Linked DNA regions of Homo sapiens. The protein of the gene in region 6 interacts with the protein of the main gene of each other region in a biochemical or structural test. Each region holds a gene or a part of one and is shown on either strand. Other genes may lie near its edges.

Region 1 (3,332 bases), on a different chromosome or scaffold from region 6:
CATCTGACAAACTGGATAAAACATGTCTTCAACTGCTTTGGACTTGAAATGGACAAAGTGAAACACAAAATGACCAAAACAAAAACCTAATACTTTTAAGCCCTCTTGATATTCCAAGACTGCCAAAGGCTATTCCACTCTCATTGTCTAGATCAGCATCACAGTAGACCTGTTGAATAAAAATCACCTTATCTAGAATTGATGCAAGTTACTGCAATGAATAACTTGTAGTACATTTAGGGTGAAGAGTGGCTGGTGCATGATTAGAATACTCAGTGACTGTTAACTTGGCAAGTGTTCAAACATACCACAGTGCTTCCAAATCACAAATCACTTGGTCCTCTCTCCCAGGACAGGCCACTTACGGAGACCTTATTCTCAAACTTGACTGGCCTAGGGAAGCTATAGAAAGAGACCAAATTACCTTGCAGCCATAGCTGTGAACACACTGGAGCCATACTTGAAAACTGGCGATGAACAGGACAACAGAGAGATACCAATTCATTGCTAAAACATTCCAAAATGAGTTTATTACAAAATAAATGCACAGTCACTGGAGGAAGGGGTTATTTTATTTATACACTCGATCTTAGATTTAGCAACCTTTCATTTTGACTCAGGATTCATTGACTAACTTAAGATGGGCTAGTTTCTGCCAACAGGGCAAGAGTGTGCAATCTCAGAGTCCCACCCAACCTGGCCAAAGCAAATGACTTCTGCATTAATTAGAAGTCATCCCCAAAGGACTTGCCCTTCATGTTTTCCCCATTTTGCCCGCTTAGATACTTGCACAAAAGATGCACCCTTTGTCTTTAAAGTTCCCTAGTTCGATGTTTAGGCAGAAGAGCAAATCCCAGGTTATTATTCTGCAAATAATTTTACATTTCCTTTATTCCAAAAATGTAGCTACCAACTTAAATGTATCATGACACACAAGGGGTAAAAGTTAGATACGAACTTCCAATAGCTAGGGCATGTTTCCTGAAACACTATCGTTCATTAGTACATTATTCAAGAAGTTACCTTAACCCCAAAGAATCTAAGAAGGGCACTGTGTAATTCTTCAGGTCACAATGCCAGCATGACTGTGGAGTCTGTTACAGGTAAGACAATCACAAGTTACAATGCTGTGATTCCAAATACTTTGGGGATGTAGAAAATGTGCTTAGCTGGGCAGCATGAATTAGCTCAGCAACATAGTGCTATGATGGAAGAGGTTCAAGATGATTCATACTTTCACGCCAGACCAGAAGTCACAAGCTCACATAGCGGCAACTCTGACAGCTAGCCAAAGTAGAAGATACTTCTAAAAAGCAGCCTGGGGACATTTTAATTAATTGGCCTGGAAAATCAGGTCAGAATTACAAAGTTCCTCATCCTTATGAAGAAGAAAATGTGATAGTATGTCTTTTATATGGAAATTTCTTTGTATATATGTATAAACTTGGTATGGCCTTAATGCTGCAGTTAAGGATTTGTCTGGCTACCACCTTAAGCAGCGTGTTAAGCAATCGCTTCCTTAATGTAACATTTTTACTTCTTACTGGACACTCAACCTTGAACAACTAATTCCCTTTTGCCCCTTACTCTTCCCCCCTTTTTTTGCATGAAGTCACAAAAGTTATGGCAGTTATTTTTTGGCTTGTAAAAAAAAAAAATCTATTTCTGCAGTTTGAAGATGGAATGTAAAATTTCTGTGAAACATGTATATAAAAGTATATTTATTGAACCATCCATATACACATATCCATGCTGATTCCAATGGAAAAAAATTAAAGTTTTCTGAAATTTTCTGTGGTTAACTCATAATTATTACTATTTAACCAACTTTATATGCAAGAACTTCCAATTACCCCAGGGAGAAACCTATGTATGACCTGGAAAACATCTCACTTTAGACAAGGCTTTATGTCGAGAAATGAGAATTCATTTGTTCATTCAAGAAGTATTTATTGATAGGTGCTAGGCAAGATACAAAGATGACTCAGACACAGATCCTGCCCATAAGGAGCTTACAGTCTAATAGGGGAGAGAGAACACATACATGGAATACATGGTCAGAACTATGTTTCAGTAAGATGAATCTAACATTGTGTATAAAGTAGGCTGGAGTAAGAGGTTAAGTGAAGCTGAGAGACTACTGAAATTACATAGGTGAGGAAGAAAGACGGGAAAGACTTGAGGTAGAACTGACAGGACTTAGCTGAAGACTGGATGTGGGGAATAACAAAAATGGAAGCAGATGACTCAGACTTTAGCATGGATGATGTCATGAACTGAAAGAAGGAACAAGTTTTTGCAAAGAAATGAAAATTTCATATAAAATTCTTCTGCATAGAAACAAACTGTCTGGGATATACTAGGCACAATCAGGAAGAAATGGCTAGTTACCCAGACCAATGGAAGCACCTCAAACTGGCCAGTGACTTCCTCCCCCTTATATATCCATCCCCCCAAATTTCCCAACAATTTTCTCCACTGAAATGGTATAGTGCCTAAAATTTATTAAATTCAAGGTCTATCTCCAGACATGGCCTCCCTTGGGAATGAAAACAGAAATATATTAAGTTATTCAACTCAGTAAGTTTCATCTAAAGACTCTAGTTATGAGTCACTGTACCTTCTGGTGGAATACAGAGATGAACTCCCTAGTCCTTATCTTCTAGGAGCTTACAGTCTAGTAAAGTAGTAAAACAGATAATGTAATTCTAATTCTAGACTGAAGGGGTAAGTTATGAACTACGAGAAAGACAAAGTGCTCTAGAACAGTTTCAGAAATGAAGGTTGGAACAGGACCTCAAACAAGAGGGAAAATGTGGAAAGTAGATGAGAATGGATTTGTTCCTCACTCCAAATTCTGGACAGATCAGCCCCAAAACGGGGCTACTCCCCATTCCTGTTGAAATTTTTTCTTAGGAAAAAATATAGCTCTTGTACTGATCTTTTAAAAAATTACTTACATGGCAAGAGATCAGAGGAAAGGGGGGATTGTAGATCTCAGTGGACCTTCGGGGAAGACAGAAGGCACTTGAAGCCAAGGAATCACAATGCCTGGCTTATCGGGAGGACCCTCAGTGTTTTAGCAAGGCTGGAGCATCACTTCCATGAAGAGTGGGAGAAATAACTCAAAAGTAATATTAAGACCTTGATATAAACATGGCATTGCCAGGCACTAAACAGGGTACACGCCTAAGACCAAATTGCTGCCCCCTAGGAGCTTACAGTTACAACAATACAAGGTGGAAAAAGCACCACAATGTACAGAATGCAAAATGCTGAAGTATTTAGGAGAAATTACAGCTGAGTTTCAGCTATTAACACATTAGGATACC
Region 2 (3,500 bases), on a different chromosome or scaffold from region 6:
GGCAGGAGAATCGCTTGAACCTGGGAGACGGAGGTTGCAGTGAGCAAGATCATGCCACTGCACTGCAGCCTGGGTGACAAGAGCGAAAATCTGTCTCAAAAAAAAAAAAAAAAAAAAAGTGGATGCAGTGTAAATGTTCCCATTGTCGTATCAGAAGAGATCAGACTATGGTAGCCCAGAGAAGGGAGTGGAAAGGCAGCCTTTAAACTTGGAATTTGATAGGGAAATATTGTCCTTGGGCTGAGATTTAGGACCCTGTAAGCAGAGGGTGTGGTATAAGCAGGGGCCTGGGGATGAATATGAGGTAGACACAGGGAGGCCTGAGTAGCCCGATTTGACCAGAGGTTTGTCGAGTGGGAGATGATGAAGAAGAAGCAGACTGCAGGATCGAAAACCTTGGTTGGTAAAAGATCAGCTGGACTTGGACTTTAGGTATCTTTGGGCTTTTTTTTTTTTTTGAGATGGAGTCTCACTCTTGTCGTGCAGGCTGGAGTGTAGCAGTGCAATCTCGGCTGACTGCAACCTCCGTCTCCTGGGTTCAAGCGATTCTCCTGCCTCAGCCTCCTGAGTAGCTGGGACTACAGGTGCCCGCCACCACACCCAACTAATTTTTTTTGTATTTTTAGTAGAGACGGGGTTTTGCCATGTTAGCCAGGCTGGTCTTGAACGCCTGACCTCGTGATCCACCTGCCTCGGCCTCCCAAAGTGCAGGGATTACAGGTGTGAGCCACTGTGCCCGGTGGTTTTGCTGTTTTCTGATTACTTCTTTGTGTTCCTAAATTATGTGAGGAGCAGAGTTAAAATGATCTGGAGGCAGGGTAAGGTGGTATATACCATTTATATAAGGAGGATAGGGAATGATTATATATATTTATTTGTTTATTCAGGGAAGATTTTTGGAGAGACACAGAAGAAACTAGTAACATTGATTTCCTCTGGGGAAGGAAACTTAAGTTTTTATCTGGTTATGCATAGGTAGTAAATTCCCATTACAGGGGTGCTACTGAAAATAATTAACTGGCACAGCACTGGCACTGATCAGTCAGAAGAGACACCAATCAATATGCCACACATGTACATACTAGCTGAATATCTGCTGTGTTCTCATGGTTCAAAAATTGAAGCCAGATAAAAAGCATAGATTGAGGCTGGGCTTGGTGGCCGATGCCTGTAATCCCAGCACTTTGGGAGGCTGAGGCGGGCAGATCACCTGAGGTCAGGAGTTCAAGACCAGTCTGGCCAAAAGAATGAAACCGCATGTCTACCAAAAAATATAAAAATTAGCCAGGTATGGTGGCAGACACCTGTAGTCCCAGCTACTTGGGAGGCTGAGGCAGGAGAATTGCATGAACCCCAGAGGCAGAGGTCGCAGTGAGCCAAGATCACGCCACTGCAGTCCACCCTGGGCCACAGAGTGAGACCCTATATGAGAAACAAAAGAAAAAAAAAAGTATAGATTGAAACATTTCCCATTCCTTAGGCAGGGAGACTTCTTACTCGTTACCCATTTGAATCTCTCAAATTTTGAATGTTTTACCTATTCAAAAAAGCAAGTAAGTTTAATAGAAACGAAGGAAGGAAGGAAATTCCATTGTTGAGAAAGCTATTATTGTGGAAGGGGCAGTGAAACTGAATTTTAGATCCTGTGATTCTATAAGGAAGGGCTGGATACGTGTGAGTGGAAGGACAGATGGAGCCAGGGGGAGTGCTGGGGCTTCCTCAAGGCCTTCAAGGTTTCTTTTATGACCAATGTAGTCCAGGCTTGGTGGATTTTCCAGTCTACCCATTCTTCTTTAAAATCCAGGCTCAGCCTGGCCGAGTCTGTGGTGGTTTAATGTTCTCTCTGATTCCAATTTATCATCCTTAAACATGAAATTAAAGTGTAATAACTGAACTTACACCTTCTGAGCACATTCTGTGAGCATTCATTAGTATGTAATCTTTATACTGGCAGCATATATTTATTGGAATTGTTTTTTTTGCCTTCATCTCACTCTTAATGGATTCAGATTTTTAAAGATCCCCCTCCTCCATTATTAAAGTAATTAATACCATTGTCTAGAAGTTGGAAAATATAGACAAGTACAGAAAAGAGCAGGAAAATCACCAGTAACTCACAATAAAAAGCAACCACCATTACTATTATCAAGATTCAAGTGGTTGTGTGGGTTGGTAGTTTCCATTTCCTGGGGCTTTGGTTAGAGTTGGGCATGGGTCTGGGCTGGGACATTGTTGCTGGCAGAAGAGAAGGGCCTAGACAAGGTTTGTAAGTTGTGTGCACCTTAGTAGCTTTGCTGGTGGTGTTGATGCCTATGCAAGCATTGAGTATGATAGGAAGAAGGCACATTTGATCTTATTTCAAATGAAGGATGATTCATTGTTTTTTAAGGGCTTGGGAGATGGTGGGATTTAGTTTATTAAGACACTGAGACCTGGGTTAGGGAGTGGGCAGTCTTGAAAAATAAGTTTTATATAGCCCACTCTAGATAGATTTGTGGGATTTACCAAGGGGATCAGAATGATGACTTTTTTGTTTGTTTGTTTGTTTGAGATGGAGTCTTGCCCTGTCAACCAGGCTAGGGTACAGTGGTGCAATCTCGGCTCACTGCAACCTCCACCTCCTGGGTTCAAGCAATTCTTCTGCCTCAGCCTCCTGAATAGCTGGGACTACAGGCACACACCTCCATGCTCGGCTAATTTTTGTATTTTTGGTAGAGACTGGATTTCACCATGTTAGCCAGGCTGGTCTCGAACTCCTGACCTCAGGTAATCCACCTGACTCAGCTTCCCAAAGTGCTGGAATTACAGGCGTGAGCCACCACGCCCAGCCTATACATTTTAAAAGTCATCACTCTGGTCTGGCCAGCCTGGCCAACATGGTGAAACCCTGTCTCTACTAAAAATATATTAAAAAATTAGCTAGGTGTGGTTGTGCATGCCTGCAATCCTGGCTACTCAGGATGCAGAGGAAGGAGAATCACTTGAACTGGGGAGGTGGAGGTTGCAGTGAGCCGAGATTGCGCCACTGCACTCCAGCCTGGGTGACAGAGCGAGAATCTGTCTCAAAAAAAAAAGAAAAAAAATTATCACACTTCAGTCCCAGATGTTATGGGCACAGATACTGCTGCCCTCCTACTTGTTTAAAAGAAGTGCCGGTTGCCAGTGGGCCTTGGTCCCTTGGAAGTGAGTGCCGGGGTGACGCTCAGTTGCCAGACCCCATCCCATGGAGAGGGCCATAGTGTCTCCCAGATGTAAGAAGACCTTTTGTGTGTTTCTCCTTAGGGAGGAATGGGAGCTGCCCTGCTGTCAGACCCTGACAAGATTGAGAAGGTAAGTCCTCCACGAGTGAAAGCAGGGGTCCTCAAACACAGCTCCAAACTAGAATTGTCTAGAACGCCTCCTTCCACCAATACCAGATTTACTGATGTCCACCCAGTTTCTCTCCCTGAGGCCTAGCGATTTCCAAAAAATTTTCCAGTGATTTTGACATGCAGCTAAGT
Region 3 (3,500 bases), about 150 Mb from region 6:
CAGACTTCTTGTAAGATTTCAAGTTGTGTAAAGAGAAAGCTCCTAGCTAGTGTCCTGCTGAACACTAGCTTATTTCCAGACTGAATTCAGATCCTTCTTCTCGTTGTTTCTGCATTCCCACTAGAATTTTAGGTGACTCAGGCAGGGAGGTTATAGCTCCTTAAAGTTTTAGGAGGCTAAGCTGTCTAGAAACACAGTAGAACTTTAATCCCCCCGAAAAGTTGATGTTGTATTCTGATGGAATTTCGGTTGATGGAAAGCGTACACAATGTGTTTATTTCTAGCACCAGAGCCAATGGAACTTGATGGCCCTAAAGGAACTGGATATATCAAGACTGAGTTGATTTCTGTGTCTGAAGTGTAAGTGAACACAGAAGAGTGACATGTTTACAAACCTCAAGCCAGCCTTGCTCCTGGCTGGGGCCTGTTGAAGATGCTTGTATTTTACTTTTCCATTGTAATTGCTATCGCCATCACAGCTGAACTTGTTGAGATCCCCGTGTTACTGCCTATCAGCATTTTACTACTTTAAAAAAAAAAAAAAAGCCAAAAACCAAATTTGTATTTAAGGTATATAAATTTTCCCAAAACTGATACCCTTTGAAAAAGTATAAATAAAATGAGCAAAAGTTGATCAGAGTGGGAAAGTAGTTCTTTTCAATCTAGAAAAGGCCAAAGTAATGATTGAGATACACTGTCTCCACTTGCTTTGATTTTGTTGTTTCATTTTATAAAAGGTAGAAAAAATTTTGGAAATGTCATTGTCAGTTATTTGGCCTGCAGCACTGTCTTGGGGTGAATGGATGTAGCCTTCATGTAAAAACACTGTGTGGAGCAGCTTTATCTGCATTCAAACCTCAAGGTAGGGATGAGGGACTCCCCAGACATTTCTCTGGTGCTTTTCTGTCCAGGGTAAGCCACGAGGCATTGTCATCTCAGGGTAGTGCACCGCACATGCTCACACCTAGGCTTACCCAGGCAGAAGCGGCACAGATTCCAGTCTGGCTATTGCTTATCACATCCCTGGAGTGTGAAACATTTCCCAAGGGGCTGGGCTGGGGACATGAGCCTCCCATGAGCTGTACTTTTGCAAATGTATTTTACAAGTGTATGCACTTACCCAAAATAAAAATATAACGTGATAATTCAATTACAGACAAAAGATAAAGTGTGTAAGTATGCACTAGTGCTTTCATCACTCAGATGTTGACATTGCTCTTTTCTTTTTCCCCATTTTAGTCACCCTTCTAGACTTCAGACCACAGACAACCTGCTCCCCATGTCTCCTGAGGAGTTTGACGAGGTGTCTCGGATAGTGGGCTCTGTAGAATTCGACAGTATGGTGAGTACCACGGCTGGCCTGTGTGTAGCTCTCAATAAGTGTGTGTGCTCAGAGGCAGGGAGCGCACCATGGCAGATCCCGGGCCTGTCTGCGGGAGGGAGCCCTGGCGGAGCCAAGGAGAGTGCAGTGCTCAGATGAGCCATGACAAGTTGGAGCTGCTGGATTTAAACCACCTACATCATCAGTGGGATTTTTATTCCTCGCATTCAGCACCTTCCAAAAAACAAGTGACATTTCTAATATTCAGGTTTCCTCCTCTCCCCTTTAAAGTTGTCCATGTAGAAATTTCATATATTAAGGAACTAAGATTTCTTTGATAAGCAAATGTTTTTCTTCGGAATGCGATTTCATCACTGTGTCTAGGGGAGGGAGTGTTATTTTTAGAAAGGGAGGGACTAACGCTTGGTAGTTACAGTAATTAGAGAGAATTATACTTTAGCAGCAATGAGATTACTTCATCTGCCTTATATTTGAGAGCTAATTTGTACAAGTAGCTCCTGGGGCTGTGAAGGGCTTGCCAAGAGTAAAAGGTTCAAGGAGTGAAATAGTTAATGAGATTCGTGATAGAAATGGGAATATGATTGTCCACAAAAGGGAACATCTTCCTTTTGGAGGGTGCTTTTTTAGTATATCAACTAGTATTGTTTGCCTTTCAGCCTAAAATCCTTCCTCTTAAAGATTGTGCTTGCTTGGCTGGATTTTTGCTGATGCTGTTTAATTTTAAGCTCTTTTCCACATGGAGCTATTCCAGCTCATTTTTAAAAATTTATTTAATGCTTCCAAAAAATATCCTGAGTTATTACTGGCCTTTCTTCCTTACTGTATACCCGGTGCCTGGCAAAAAGTAGGTGCTCAACAAAGAGAGGAAGGCAGGGAGGGGAAAGGTGAGCGAGAATGAGAGGGCGTCACTCTTCAGACATTTGGGGAATGCGATGATAAGGCCTCAGTAAGATCTGCCTGGATTCAGGTTTCTCATGTGTAATTTTTTGACTTTTTTCCTCACCTTAAGCACGGGCTACAATCATTAGAGATTGTACCTTCCTACACTTTCCTGATTGTTGTTGACGAAATAGGCCATTTAGAAAAACAGTTAGCTATTGTGGCAGCGAAATAGTTTCATTCCTATTGGCAAGTGTAAAATGAACCTTTTCTGCATGTAAGAAGGATCCTGCTAGAGTTTCGCTCCCAACACTGCTATAGGCCTGGCACAAAAATGGAATAAATATAAAGCCCTATTCAGAAAATATGTTACATCACAGGAACTGTAAAATGGGGGGATTTTTTATACCTCCTTTGTTGTTCCTGAGCAAATTACATCATCATCACCACCACCATTAATAGGTGACATTAAGCACCTACAGTATACCATGTACTTCACAGGTAGTAACTCATTCAGTCCTCACAGCCACCTTCTGAGTTAGGTGTTATTGTTATTCCTACTTTGACAGATGTGGGAACAGAGCCCCTCCTCCCCACACAGCCCCTTTTATGTAACTTGACTAAGATCAAGCAGTTAGTAAATGGTAGAAAGAATATTTGAATCTACCTAGTGAGTCTCTAGTGCATGCTTTTGTCCGGTATCCTGGAAAGCCTCCCACAAAAAGCTAATCTTTGCCCCATTCAAAACATGCACCCTGAAGAAGCTGTTTGTACAGGATTGGGTTTATTCTGTTATTAAGACAAAGGCATCATGGCCTTTGGGTGAGAGGCCCGTATGTGTTTGGGATTTGGCAATCAGCATTCCATCTCTGTCATCACCATTATTGAGAAAATAGATGGATTGGTTCCCTCTCTGCAGTCCTGTGGAGCAGTTGGACTGCTCTCTCTGCTCTCAGGATGATACTGTGAGAACAATTTAAATATGCTAAGCACATGTCAGGAAACAGTTTTGTGGTCTTTGGACACTCGCTGTAGCCATTCCGTTCCATTTCAGGTGATTTTATTCATTTCATTTGTAGAATAAAATAAATCCATTTCACACACACACACACACACACACACACACACACACACCCTCTATACACCACTAAAGCCTCCCATTAAACCCATAGAAGACTTAAAGAGCTAAAAGAGGCTATAATATAAAAAAAAAAAAAGAAAAGAAAAGAAAAAGAGTTCATAATATAGGCACGGCACTGGTTAGACAACGGTTGAATCA
Region 4 (2,865 bases), on a different chromosome or scaffold from region 6:
CAGAGTGTTGGGGCGCAAGGAGCTCAGGTATGGAGTGGGGTAGGCACGGGGGCCAGGAGCCCTGGAGGCAGGGAAAGGCCATGATGTTGGACCTCTGGGAAGAGGATATTGCTGTGCTAAAGGTTTGGGATGGGGGCCTGAGCCTTTTGATTTATGTAGCCGAAGCCCGAAAGGTGGGTAGTGAGCCTAAAACAGAAGGGGGCGGGGACAAAGAGGGAGATGGCAAGATCAGTAATAGTATCTCTGGGGCAGGTCGCTACTAAACTGGAGAACAAAACTTCGGCGATATGTGGCCAAGAAGCTGAAAGAACAAGCAAAGGCACTGGACATCAGGTGAGGAGAGAACGCAGCGAGGCAGGTGTGGACTGGGTGTCCAGGGGAAAAGTCTGGGAAAATAACCCAACTCTTGGGACTGTTTTGCCAGCCTCAGCTCTGGAGAGGAAGATGAAGGTGATGAGGAGGACTCAACAGCTGGAACCACAAAGCAGCCCTCTAAGGAGGAGGAGGAAGAGGAGGAGGAGGAACAACTGAACCAGACCTTGGCAGAAATGAAGGCCCAGGAGGTGGCGGAATTGAAGAGGTGAAAGGAGCTGGGGTAGAGCTTGGAGTTCCCCAACGCAGGGACTGTGTGAAGATGGGAGAAGAAAATGCAAGGCATGGATAGAAACTTTGGAGCTGGGCCGGTTTTACTCCCTCAATCCACCCCCTCAGGAAGAAAAAGAAGCTGTTGCGTGAGCAGAGAAAGCAGCGGGAGCGTGTGGAGCTGAAGATGGATCTGCCTGGGGTTTCCATTGCAGACGAGGGGGAGACTGGCATGTTCTCCTTGAGCACCATCCGGGGTCACCAGGTGAGGCGGCATTGGGGGTGCAGGTTTAGGAGACAGAAGGATCTGTTTGGGTGTTTGGAGGTGGGGGGTGTTGAATGTCTTTTTAGGTTGCCGAACGATAGGCTGTGGTTGCTGTCTTCACCACAGGGTGCCTTGGTGAGTATAAGGCCACAAAGAAACATAAACCAAAAAGGATGAGTTAGGTAGATAGATGAGTGTGATAGATTTATTTTTTTTTTTTTTGAGACGGAGTCTTGCTCTGTTGCCCAGGCTGGAGTGCAGTGGCACGATCTCGGCCCACTGCAAGCTCCACCTTCCAGGTTCACACCATTCTCCTGCCTCAGCCTCCCGAGTAGCTGGGACAACAGGCGCCTACCACCACGCCTGGCTAATTTTTTGTATTTTTAGTAGAGACGGGGTTTCACCGTGTTAGCCAGGATGGTCTCGACCTCCTGACCTCGTGATCTGCCCACCTCGGCCTCCCAAAGTGCTGGGATTACAGGCGTGAGCCACCGCGCCCGGCTGATAGATTTATTCTTGAAGAACTAGAACATCAGAAAAGAACTTAGGTTATAGTAGATGCTGCCAGGTTACTTGAGTTTCAAGCACAGATGAATAGAGGATCTCCCTCAGAGGGGAGCAGCATTCTTTAGTTCATTGAGACCAAGTGAGCACTCGCATTAGGGTACTTCCACTGAATACTGAAGAACATGTTTTTCCTGACAAAATCAGGGTCACAAACAAAATGAACTTTTGTGGCTTATGTGTGGGAGTGTCATAATCAGGTCATCTTTGTTGTACAGGAGGGCAGTAGAGCATGGTGGCCCTAGAGCAGACACAGGCTCAGGTTTCCTTCCCAGCTCTACCACCTGGAGCTTTGTGAAGTGACTGAGCTGACTACCACTTATCCTTGCTGCCTCAGTTTCCTCATCTGTAAAACAATAATAGAACCTACCTACTAGAGTTTTTGGTGAGGAATAAAAAAAGATAGGTGTAATCCCTCATATGTGATAAACACTCAAGAAATAGTAGTTGGAGTTTTTCCTTTGAGACAAGATCTTGTTTTGTCACCCAGGCTGGAGTTCAGTGGTGCCATCATGACTCACTGCAGCCTCAAACTCCTGGCATCAAGCAATCCTCCTGCCTCAGCCTCCCAAAATGCTGAGATTACAGGTGTGAGCCACCATACCCAGCCTAGTATCTTTACCATGAGGAAAATAAAAGGTTCTGACAATTGGTTTAAGTGGAACAGTTTTGTTGGATGTATGTTGGCTGGGCCCCTTTTATTCAGTGGAAACAAACTGTGTAGACGGTATTCTCAGGAGATGATTGAGATGCTGTCTGAGAATAATTTTTAAAGGAAAACCAGTGTTGTAGAATATGTTAAGATTTGGTGCTATGTGGGCTGTAGGTACCTTCCTTAAGACCTATTTGTGATACCACTGAGACAAGACAGCTGAGTGGGATAGATCAGTAACCCAGCCTAGAACGGGATGTTGTAAACAGGCCATTCACTACCCTGGATCTGAGCTTTCCCATCTGTGAAAGGATAATGGATTTGCCAGTGTTCTTTCTAGTGTTGCTGAGCATAGACTGAGGTGAGGGACACAGAAAAAAAAACAGTATATTTCCTTTTAAATAGTTTACCTTTGTTTCTGTTACACTTCAGTTATTAGAGGAAGTAACACAAGGGGATATGAGTGCAGCAGACACATTTCTGTCCGATCTGCCAAGGGATGATATCTATGTGTCAGATGTTGAGGACGACGGTGATGACACATCTCTGGATAGTGACCTGGATCCAGAGGAGCTGGCAGGAGTCAGGGGACATCAGGGTCTAAGGGACCAAAAGCGGTAAGGGGCACGTGTGCACCAAAGGGAATGCTGCCACTCTGAGGAAGTGTTAGGGTGGGTACTACCAGAGCCTGAGTAGGGCAGCAAGGGCTCCAGGCAATCTGGGTCTCTGAGCCCCCTACTTTCCTTTGGGTCTACAGTATGCGACTTACTGAAGTGCAAGATGATAAAGAGGAGGAGGAGGA
Region 5 (3,500 bases), on a different chromosome or scaffold from region 6:
GTAGGAGCCAGATTATTAAGGGCTTCCTAGGTTATCCTAAGGAGTTTGGGTTCTATAGTGTAACTGATAAACTGGTGAAAGACCTTTAAGTAAGAGAATGTTCTAGCCTTGGCAAGATGGTAGAATAGGAAGCCCTGGAACACAGCAATTCAACAATAATTTATAGGCAATTTTTCTTTGTGAGAAATCCAGAAACCAGTTAAGAGGCTCCTGTATGCCGGGTGAGCATGAAACCAGCCAGATCTTAATTGGCAGGGAAATTTAAGATACCCTCATGCCATAATCCCTCCTCACAGTGCAGGGCCATACAATCAGGACAACCACCCTCCACCCCCAGCTCCCAGCTTCTTTCTGCCTAGAAGGGGAAAGATGTATACCACGCATCCAATGCCTTAGCTTTTCTGGGGCTACCCAGAGGACTGGCTTCTGTCTGGCCAGTCTCAGAGTGCTGACAGGACATGGCATATTTTAGCAACCCCGGGGCCAATGAAGAAAGAGGTGGCTGGTGGTGGTGGTCACTGTAACCATCCCCTGCTCAGCCCAGCACAAAGCTAACTGTTGAAAAGCTTCAGCTTTCAGCTTTTTCCTGGAGAGGCAAAGAGGAGCACCATGTATCCAATGACCCAACTTATCTGGGAGTTGCCTGAAGAATTGGCTTCAGTCTTGCTTGTCTCAGAGCTCTGATGGGACTGAGACAAGCAAGGGACTGATGCCTGGGGACTGCCAAGAACAAAGAAAGTGGATTAGACTAGCATAAAAGTTTGAGAGGCCTCCAGAATCTCTGTCCAGGCTGATTGGTTAGGATCTTCTCCAGTATGAGGCCAGTTTGTGCAGACACAAACACAGAGAATCAAGGAAAAATGAAGAAACAGGAAAACATTTCCTAAATAAAGGAATGAGATAAAGCTCCAGAAACTGACCCTAATGAAATGGAGATATGTGATTTACCTGACAGAGAATTCAAAGTAATCCTTACAAACATTCCCACTGAGGTCTGGTGAACAATGCATGAAAAAAAGTGAGAATTTCAACAAAAAGAAAACTTTAAAAAGTAGCAAGCAGAAAGCATGGAGCTAAAAAATACCATAAACTGAAAAAGTTACCAGAGGGATTCAATAGCAGACAATGTCAAGCAGAAGAAAAGGTCATCAATCTCAAAGACAGGTCATTGGAAATGACTGAGTCAGAGGAGAGTTGGGCTAGCCTCCAGCATTTCCCAAAGTGTTAGCTGTTTTATTCATGCTATGTTAAAGGCTTGGACAAAAAGTAAACTCAGGAATCCTGAGTTAAACCAAGTCGAATAGATTTTTGTTCTTTGAGTTTTCTGATTCTTCACTATGCTAATGTGTATTTTTAATTTCACAAAAGGCATTTGTATTATGTAATTTGCATTATTTTCAGTTTTTATTTATGGAACCATTTTATTTGGGGACCATGTTATAGAACACATTTTGGGAAATGGACACTGAGAATACTAGCAGCAGAGAAACATTGAAAGCTTGAATCAGAAGGTTAGCATCAGGAGAGGAAGGGGCAAGAACAGGAAATTAAGTTGTGTCTCTCAGAGCACATTCTTTATGAGTGGTGACTTACCAATAATTTTAAAAGATAATATCATTTGAGAGTTATTGATACCTGATCAAAAGATAAGAATAAGCAGTTTGAAATGTGGTTTGAAACTTCTCTGAGACAAATGATAGTCAAAGGAAAGTGCTTCTCTAATATGGTTTAAGCTCCATCAACTAATGACATAGCCCCCACTCCTCTTGATTTCAGAACCTGTCCATGGCCTGGCTTGAATTAATGCACTAGATAATCCCTACAATGGTCATATTCTTGAGATGTTTGAGCAACACGATAACTACTTGCTTATGAGTAAATCAGAGATGGTTGCCAGGAGTCTAGGTTGGGTCATGAGCAGCCACATGGTAGTATGAGCAAAGCAAGTTAGAGACAGTGCTAGTTTTGAGATGATACCCATTTGCTTTTTTATGTGTTCGTGAGTTAGAGTTGTCTGTGGGACATCCTTGTGGAGGTGAGAGGATCACTAGGCTGTTGAATACATGCGTTTGTACCTCCAAAGAAATTTGGACTGATTCAGCCTTTATTTTACCTGATGTGCCTCAATTGCTGTATGTGTTGGGGTTTCATGCCTCTTTTATGAGATATAAAATATTAAATTGCAGGGTGAAGACACTGCACATTCCTGATTTTCTGCCCCATTATACTTCCACACATTCAGTTTCCCTTGTCCCTTTATAGCTTCACTACTACACATAAGTCCCATTGAAACCACTTTTTTTGGATGTTTTTAAACCTCTAATTTTAGGAAAATTGAAATAGACATTATTCACCTTTCAATAGAAGCTGCAACTGCCTCTACAGTATGACAAAGATACTTGTTTGGCAGTGTTTCTCATTTCTTTGTTACTACACCAAGTAAAGCCATTGAGTTAATAATGCTATGTTTCTATTTCGGTTATTTTAAGTGTAATAACAGTGTTCTTCATTTTATTTATAGCTCCAAAAGGAATTCTTCATTTGTCTCCTGATGTTTATCAAGAGATGGAAGCCAGCCGCCACAAAGTAATCTCTGGCACTACTCTAGGCTATTTGTCACCCAAAGATATGAACCAACCTTCAAGCTCTTTCTTCAGTATATCTCCCACATCGAATAGTTCAGCTACAATTGCCAGGGAACTCCTTATGAATGGAACATCTTCTACAGCTGAAGCCATAGGTTTAAAAGGAAGTTCTCCTACTCCCCCTTGTTCTCCAGTACAACCTTCAAAACAACTGGAATATTTAGCAAGGATTCAAGGCTTTCAGGTATGAATTAAAAGCAAAAACAAAAAACAAAACAATTCATTAGCCTCAGATTCTTCATCTGTATACATCACAAGGCTCATTCTTGCCTGCTAGTATGGCCTACATGCCACTTACGTTTTAAGTTATTTAGGAACACAAAGGACAGACAAAAAAGCCATATGCACATGCCTCATTTTCTCTTATTTTTGATCTATCTAGTAATTCTTTTGCTGCCTGTCTCTTCTCCATTTTCCTTCTTCTTTTTTAAGCATTTTTCATATTCTTCACTGTCTTCTATTTGGTCTTGATTAGGTGCATCTATCTCTTCGCTCTGTCTTCCACAAACAAAAATTCTGCCTTCAGACATTTGGTGTTAGTATTTCACACTCAGTTCTCCCTTTTTTTACATAAGGATTGAGTTTCTTTTTATGATGATTTTACCTTTATAGCAATTTTGAATTTTGCATTCTATTGCTAGTATTGATTCAGGTACACCATTAAGATACAACATTCTAGAAGTCTATTACCTTAGGAGTTAATTAAACATGATATTTGAAGAATAATGAAATGCTTTATAGTTGTTTGAGGCATAACAATGTGTATTTGTTTTACTGGATCATGTTTTGAACTGACTAGGGAGGGTAGCACCTGCCTCAGATAGTACCAACAATTCTGTTTCACTGGGTAGTCTA
Region 6 (3,500 bases):
AGTGATGGTGAGGATGTGGAGAAATTAGAACCCTCGTGCATTGCTGGTGGAAATGTAACATGGGTGTAACCACTGTGGAAAACAATTTGGTGATTCATCACAAAGTTAAACAGAATTATCATGTGATTCAATTCCACTTATATACCACAAATATTCAGAAGTAGGGACTTAAACAGATATATGTATACCAGTGTTCACAGCAGCATGATTCAAGATGGCCAAAAGGTTGAAATAACCAGTGTCCATTCATAAATGAATGCATGAACAAAATATGGTATATATACACAACGGAATATTATTCAGCCTTAAAAAGGAAAGGAATTCTGACATATGCTACAACATAGATGAACCTTGAAGACATTTTGCTAAGTGAAATAACCAGACACAAAAGGACAAATACTGTTTGATTCCACTTATATGAGGTACCTAGAACAGGCAAATTTACAGAGACAGAAGAGAGATTAGAAAATATAAAAAATTAACCAGGCATGCCCACGCCTATGGTCCCAGCTACTCGGGAGGCTGAGGTGGGAGGATCGCTTGAGCCCAGAGTTCAAGGCTGCAGTAAGCTGTGATCACACCACTGCACTCCAGCCTGGGCAACAGAGCGAGACCCTGTCTCAAAAAAAAAAAAAAAAAAAAAGATTAGCAGAGACTGAAAGGACTGGGAAATGGGGAGTTACTGTTTAATGGGTACACACTTTCTGTTTGGAAAGATTAAGAGTTGTGGATGTGGATGTGGTGGCGGCTACACAACATTGTGAATGTACTTAAAGGCAGGGAATTAATACATTGAAAAATAGTACATTTCATGTTATGTGTATTTTATCACAATTTTAAAACATAAAAAAAAAAATCACAATGGTTGCAGGGTAGAGAAGGAATTGAAGTAGCTGTCGGAACTGGTTCTGAGATTCTCACAGCAATCCAGGAATGAGGTGGTGTTGGCTTGAACTAGGATGGTAAGTGTAGACATCTTTGAGAAGTAGAAAGATTTTGGTGACAGGACTTAGTTATAGATTAGAAGGCAGGGAGAGGAAATGTCAAGGATGCCTCCCAGATTGATGGCTTTCAGACTTGGATAGATGGTGGACTCATTTCCTGTGAAAGGAAACTTCAAACCAGCTTGGGAGAAGATCATACATGCAGTACAGGATATTTTGAGTTTAAAGTTCGTTCAAGATGTTCAAGTGGAGAATTTGGATAGAGAGATCTGAAACTCAGAGCGGTTCATAAGGAATATGTAAACTTTAGAGGTAATGGCGTATAGATGATCACTGAAATCATGGACGTGAAAGAAATCACCTTAAGGAGAAAGTATAGAGTGAAGAGAAGAGGATTGTTGGGCCATGCCAGCATTTAGAGCTACAAAGATTAAGGTGTGTTAAAAAGAGTGGCCCGGCCAGGCGTGGTGGCCCACACCTGTAATCCCAGCACTTTGGGAGGCTGAGGCTGGTGGATCACTGGAGTTCAGGAGTTGGAGACCAGCCTGGCCAACACCGGGAAACCTCAAAAATACAAAAATTAGCTGGGCGTGGTGGTGGGCACCTGTAGTCCCATAGTCCCAGCTACTTGAGAGGCTGTGGCAGGAAAATTGCTTGAACCTGGGAGGCAGATGCTGCAGTGAGCTGAGATCATGTTACTGCACTCCAGCCTGGGCAACAGAGTGAGGCCCTGTCTCAAAAACAAAAAACAGAAAGAGTGGCCCTGGAAGAAAGAAGATCAAAAGAGCTTTCCAAGAAGAATTAAGAGGTTTACAGGATCTGATTTCTGCCTTTATGGATTTACCGATTCTGGAAGTTTCATATAAATGGGAATCATACAATATGTGTGAAATTTTATGTCTGGATTTTTCATTTTGCATAATGTTTTTGAGGTTTATCCATGTTTTTGTTGTTGTGGTTGTTGTTTTTTGAGATGGAGTCTTCGCTCTGTCGCGCAGGCTGGAGTGCAGTGGCGCGATCTCAGCTCACTGCAAGCTCCGCCTGCCGGGTTCACGCCATTCTCCTGCCTCAGCCTCGCGAGTAGCTGGGACTACAGGCGCGCGCCACCGCGCCCGGCTAATTTTTTGTATTTTTAGTGGAGACGAGGTTTCACCGTGGTCTCGATCTCCTGACCTCGTGATCCGCCCGCCTCGGCCTCCCAGAGTGTTGGGAGTACAGGCATGAGCCACGGCGCCTGGCCTATCCATGTTGTAGCATGTATCAGTACTTCATTTTTTTTGTGACTGAATAATATTCCGCTGTGTAGATATATTTCACATTTTGTTCACCATTTATCCGTTGATGGACACTTGGTTTGTTTCCACCTTTTGGCTATTGTTAACAGTGCTGCTATGTACATTCCTGTCTAAGTCTTTGTTTGGAAACCTGTTTTCCAATTCTTTGAAATATCTAGGAATGGAATTGCTGAGTTTTATGATAATTCAAAGTTTACCTTCTAGAGGAACCCCAGCAACCGTATTGTTTTACATTCTTATCAGCAGTGTTTGAGGGGTCCAGTTTCTCCATGTCCTCACCAACACTTATTTTTTATTATTTCCTGATTATTATTATTATTGCCATACTAGTGGGTGTGAAATTGTATTTAGTTGTGGTTTTGAATTCCATTTCTTTAATGACTCATGATGTTGAGTATCTTTTCATGTGCTTATTGGCGATTTACATATTTTCTTTGGAGAGATGTCTGTTCAAGCCCCTTTGCCTATTTTTTTAATTGGGTGGTTTGTCTTTTTGTTGTTGAGCTGTAAGAATTCTTTATATATCTGGTTACTAGACCCTCATCAGATATATGATTTGTAAATATTCTATTCTGTAGATTGTCATTTTATTTTCTTCATAGTGTCCTTTGATACACAAACGTTTTAAATTTTGATGAAGCCCAATTTATCTCTGTTTTCTTTTGTTGCTTGTGCTCTTGCTGTCATAGCTAAAATTTTATCACCAAATCCAAAGTCATGAAGATCTCCCCCATATTTTCTTCTAAGAGTTTTATAGTTTTCGCTTGTACATTTATATTTTATATCCTCTAAATTTTGTTTATAATTTAAATCATTGCTATAGACTTGGTCCAGTGAGACCTATAAACAGAGGTCTTAATTTACTCAGTGGTTAAATTGTCCTAAAATTGATTTCTGCAAAATTCAGAGGGGAGATTTTTGGGATTTCATAGAGAAATCTATATCCATACAGTTAAATCCTTCATGATTTCATACACTTCACTTTTTTAAAGTATTAAAACTTTTTTATTTGAAGAATACGTGGGGAGAAGAGAAATATATTTCAGCACTTAGATATGTAGATTATTTCCAAAATAGTTTACCACTCAACTAGTCACTTCTGTGTAAATCAGTTTTCCCTGAAGCAAGCATTGTGTTGTTCCCGGCTACAAGCGGTCCTCATTTTGCATGGTACTGTGGGACCATAAAAATGGCCATGCAAAGCAATCTTAATAATCAATGGGGAAAATGATGATTGTTCCATGACCTTTAAAATTCTGCT
Region 7 (3,500 bases), on a different chromosome or scaffold from region 6:
CTCCTATAATCTGTTTCTCCTATAATCTTATTGTTATATGTATCTTTGTATATCTGTGTGTATATTCGTTTTGTGTATATCTAGGTTAACTCCGTGTATATGTGCATATAAACATAGACTACTTTAAATAACTTTCATGTTTTTATAAAAACAATGCATACTCATTATGAATAATTCCACTTCAAACAATTGCAAAAGATACAAAGAAGAAAGTAAAATATCACCTAAATCCTACACCAAGAGAGAAATACTGTTAATATGTTGGTGATGTTTTAAAATACCAGTATGCACATATGGATTACACGTGTGGGGTTTTTAAAATTTTTTTATTTATTTTTATTTATTTATTTATTTATTTATTTATTTATTTTGAGATGAAGTCTTGCTCTGTCACCCAGGCTGGAGTGCAGTGGCACGATCTCGGCTCACTGCAACCTCCGCCTCCTGGGTTCAAGCGATTCTTCTGCCTCAGCCTCCCAAGTAGCTGGGACTACAGGCGCGTGCCACCGCGCCTGGCCAATTTTTGTGTTTTTATTAGAGACGGGGTTTCACTATGTTGCCCAGGCTGGTCTTGAACTCCTGGCCTCAAACAATGATCTTACCGTATGGTATGTACAATTGCCTTTTTTGTTTGTTTGTTTTTTGTTTTTTTTTTTTTTTGAGATGGAGTCTCCCTCTTTTGCCCAAGCTGGAGTGAAATGGCGCAATCTCAGCTCACTGCAACCTCTGCCCCACCAGGTTCAAGCAATTCTCCTGCTTCCACCTGCTGAATAGCTGGGATTACAGGTGCCCACCACCATACCCGGCTAATGTTGTTTTTTTGTTTTTTTGAGATGGAGTTTTGCTGTCGCCTAGACTGGAGTGCAGTGGTGCAACCTTGACTCACTGCAACCTCCACCCTCTGGGTTCAAGCAATTCTCTTGACTCAGCCTCCTGAGTAGCTGGGACTACCGGCACCTGCCACCACGCCCAGTTAATTTTTGCATTTTTAATAGAGACAGGGTTTCAACATATTGCTCAGGCTGGTCTTGAATTCCTGACCTCAGGTGATCCACCCACCTCAGCCTCCCAAAGTTCTGGGATTACAGACATGAGCCACCGTGCCCTGCCTAATTTTTGTATTACTAGCGATGGGGTTTCGGCATGTTGGCCAGGCAGATCTCTAACTCCTGATCTCAGGTGATTCACCCGCTTCTGCCTCCCAAAGTGCTAGGATTACAGACATGAGCCACCGCACCTGGCCATACAATTGCCTTCTATATGTTTTTTATTTAATATGACATTTGTATTTCCCCATGTTATTAAAAAATTCTTTATAAGCATTTTTAGTGACTGCATCGTACTACATTTAATATTCGTCTAATGCTGAACATTTAATCTCCCCACCCCCCACTTTTTGGTGTTACAGATAACACTACAGTGAACATCTCTGTAGAACACTTTATTACATTTCAGGTTATTTTCTGAGAACAGACTCTATATCCCTCATTTTATTGGATGCGCATTAAATGGTTCTAGACTTACTTACACTTTCACTTCTGATGCTTCTGTTCAGTATCTCAAAGAATGACCGTTCTCTCTTAACAACCATTATACCTCTTTTCTGATGTTAAAAATCTACATTCATTACAGAAAAGTTGGAAAATAGTAGGCCGGGTGCTCACGCCTGTAATTCCAGCACTTTGGGAGGCTGAGGCGGGTGGATCACCTGAGGTCAGGAGTTTGAGACCAGCCTGACCAACATGGAGAAACCCCATCTCTACTAAAAATACAAAATTAGCTGGGCATGGTGGCGTATGCCTGTAATCCCATCTACTTCGGAGACTGAAGCAGGAGAATCGCTTGAACCCCAGAGGCAGAGGTTGCAGTGAGTCAAGATCGTGCCATTGCACTCCAGCCTGGGCAACAAGAGCAAAACTCCATCTCAAAAAGAAAAAAAAGAAAGGAAAAGTCGGAAAATAGTGAAACACACTCTACTCTCTGTGCTTTTGATCTTTTTTCCATGCTGTCACCTATGCGTTTGTTGTTGTTCTATAAAATTGAGGACATAAGAAGCAGATTGATGTGTAACTTGTTTTTTTCTTTTTTTTTCTTTTTTTTTTTTTTTGAGACAGAATTTCACTCTTTTCGCTCAGAGTGGAGTGCAATGGCGCAATCTCAGCTTACTGCAGCCTCCGCCCACCTGTTCAAGCAGTTCTCCTGCCTCAGCCTCCTGAGTAGCTGGGATTACAGGCATGCACTACCACACCCAGCTAATTTTGTATTTTTTTAGTAGAGACTGAGTTTCACCATGTTGGCCAGGCTGGTCTCAGAACTCCTGAGTCAGATTATCTGCCTGCCTCAACCTCCCAAAGTGCTGGGATTACAGGCACAAGCCATTGCGCCTGGCCTGTAACTTGCTTTTTTTACACTCAACACCACAAACAGAATATTTTCTCATATTATAAAATATTCTACAACATGTACATTACTTTTTTGATGACTTGCTGAAACAAAATCAACAAGCAGAGAAACTGAAATTCCCTATACTAGAAAAACCATTGTGGGAAAGGCCAGCAAATTTCTTCTGGCTTGCCCAAAATCCTCAAAACTTCCCCAGTTGAAGTGATACAGGTATGGAAGAGCATCTGAGACATATCATCTGTGAGTCCTGCTGAGCCCCATCAGTCCTCCACCACTGGTGGGGGCTTCTGGGCCCCACATTTTTAAAGCAGTAGTTGCTAGGTTGACACCATTTCAGCCACATGGACTTGTTAGTGAGTCGTGGCATCCGCTTTATGAGGCAGCAGCGCAGCCTAGAGTCAACATCAAGCCATATGTTGATGCACAAGAGGCTCGCATGTATGCCTATACCAGGCTCTGATTCACTGAATTCATTGGCCAGAATCAGGGATGTTTTCTGAAGGCGTAAGTAAGAGCTATAGCCTTCAGGTCTTCTTGCCACACTGGCAGCCTGGCATAGCAAAGAGAGCACAGGCTTTAGGGTCACAGACCTGGCTTCACTCACTGGCTGGGTCACCTTGGGCAAGCCACTTCACTCATCTGAGCCTCAGTTTTTCTGAATAATGTGGCAAAGTGATACCTACCTCATTGGGGTAGTTCTGAGGACCAAAGGAGAAAATATATGTAGAAAACACATCACTAATTTTTTTTTTTTTGAGGTGGAGTTTCGCTCTTGTCGCCCAGGCTGGAGTGCAGTGGCGCAATCTCGGCTCGCTGCAACCTCCGCCTCCTGGGTTGAAGTGATTCTCCTACCTCAGCCTCCCAAGTAGCTGGGATTACAGGCACACGCCACCATGCCCAGCTAATTTTTGAATTTTTAGGAGAGACAGGGTTTCACCATGTTGGCCAGGATGGCCTCAATCTCTTGACCTCGTGATCCGCCTGCCTTGGCCTCCTGAAGTGCTAGGATTACAGATGTGAGCAAAACGCATAACTAAATGTTAATGGTCCTCTTTTCTCTCTACTCAGCCTATAATATGCAATGTAGCCTAAAAGGC

Evidence for each region.
Region 1: the proteins of EIF2AK2 (region 6) and G3BP1 form a complex in vitro, tested with the Homo sapiens proteins (one study listed by BioGRID).
Region 2: the proteins of EIF2AK2 (region 6) and DUS2 form a complex in vitro, tested with the Homo sapiens proteins (one study listed by BioGRID).
Region 3: the proteins of EIF2AK2 (region 6) and STAT1 form a complex in vitro, tested with the Homo sapiens proteins (one study listed by BioGRID).
Region 4: the proteins of EIF2AK2 (region 6) and FTSJ3 form a complex in vitro, tested with the Homo sapiens proteins (one study listed by BioGRID).
Region 5: the proteins of EIF2AK2 (region 6) and STAU2 form a complex in vitro, tested with the Homo sapiens proteins (one study listed by BioGRID).
Region 7: the proteins of EIF2AK2 (region 6) and ZNF346 form a complex in vitro, tested with the Homo sapiens proteins (one study listed by BioGRID).

Annotation. Positions count from the first base shown.
Region 1 is NC_000005.10:151,809,954-151,813,285, reverse strand, and holds the end of G3BP1 (ras GTPase-activating protein-binding protein 1), read right to left. Parts: 3' UTR 501-3,332; downstream 1-500. UniProt on the Homo sapiens protein: Protein involved in various processes, such as stress granule formation and innate immunity. Plays an essential role in stress granule formation.
Region 2 is NC_000016.10:68,057,784-68,061,283, forward strand, and holds part of DUS2 (tRNA-dihydrouridine(20) synthase [NAD(P)+]-like), read left to right. Parts: intron 1-3,282; coding exon 3,283-3,330; intron 3,331-3,500. UniProt on the Homo sapiens protein: Catalyzes the NADPH-dependent synthesis of dihydrouridine, a modified base found in the D-loop of most tRNAs. Specifically modifies U20 in cytoplasmic tRNAs. Activity depends on the presence of guanosine at position 19 in the tRNA substrate.
Region 3 is NC_000002.12:190,972,672-190,976,171, reverse strand, and holds part of STAT1 (signal transducer and activator of transcription 1-alpha/beta), read left to right. Parts: intron 1-260; coding exon of another isoform or gene 261-284; coding exon 285-360; coding exon of another isoform or gene 361-364; exon of another isoform or gene 365-634; intron 635-1,239; coding exon 1,240-1,342; intron 1,343-3,500. UniProt on the Homo sapiens protein: Signal transducer and transcription activator that mediates cellular responses to interferons (IFNs), cytokine KITLG/SCF and other cytokines and other growth factors.
Region 4 is NC_000017.11:63,821,799-63,824,663, reverse strand, and holds part of FTSJ3 (pre-rRNA 2'-O-ribose RNA methyltransferase FTSJ3), read left to right. Parts: coding exon 1-27; intron 28-252; coding exon 253-333; intron 334-424; coding exon 425-580; intron 581-711; coding exon 712-847; intron 848-1,901; coding exon of another isoform or gene 1,902-1,991; exon of another isoform or gene 1,992-2,075; intron 2,076-2,495; coding exon 2,496-2,680; intron 2,681-2,820; coding exon 2,821-2,865.
Region 5 is NC_000008.11:73,551,341-73,554,840, reverse strand, and holds part of STAU2 (double-stranded RNA-binding protein Staufen homolog 2), read left to right. Parts: intron 1-2,521; coding exon 2,522-2,829; coding exon of another isoform or gene 2,830-2,835; exon of another isoform or gene 2,836-3,500. UniProt on the Homo sapiens protein: RNA-binding protein required for the microtubule-dependent transport of neuronal RNA from the cell body to the dendrite.
Region 6 is NC_000002.12:37,150,481-37,153,980, reverse strand, and holds part of EIF2AK2 (interferon-induced, double-stranded RNA-activated protein kinase), read left to right. Parts: intron 1-3,500.
Region 7 is NC_000005.10:177,046,696-177,050,195, forward strand, and holds part of ZNF346 (zinc finger protein 346), read left to right. Parts: intron 1-3,500.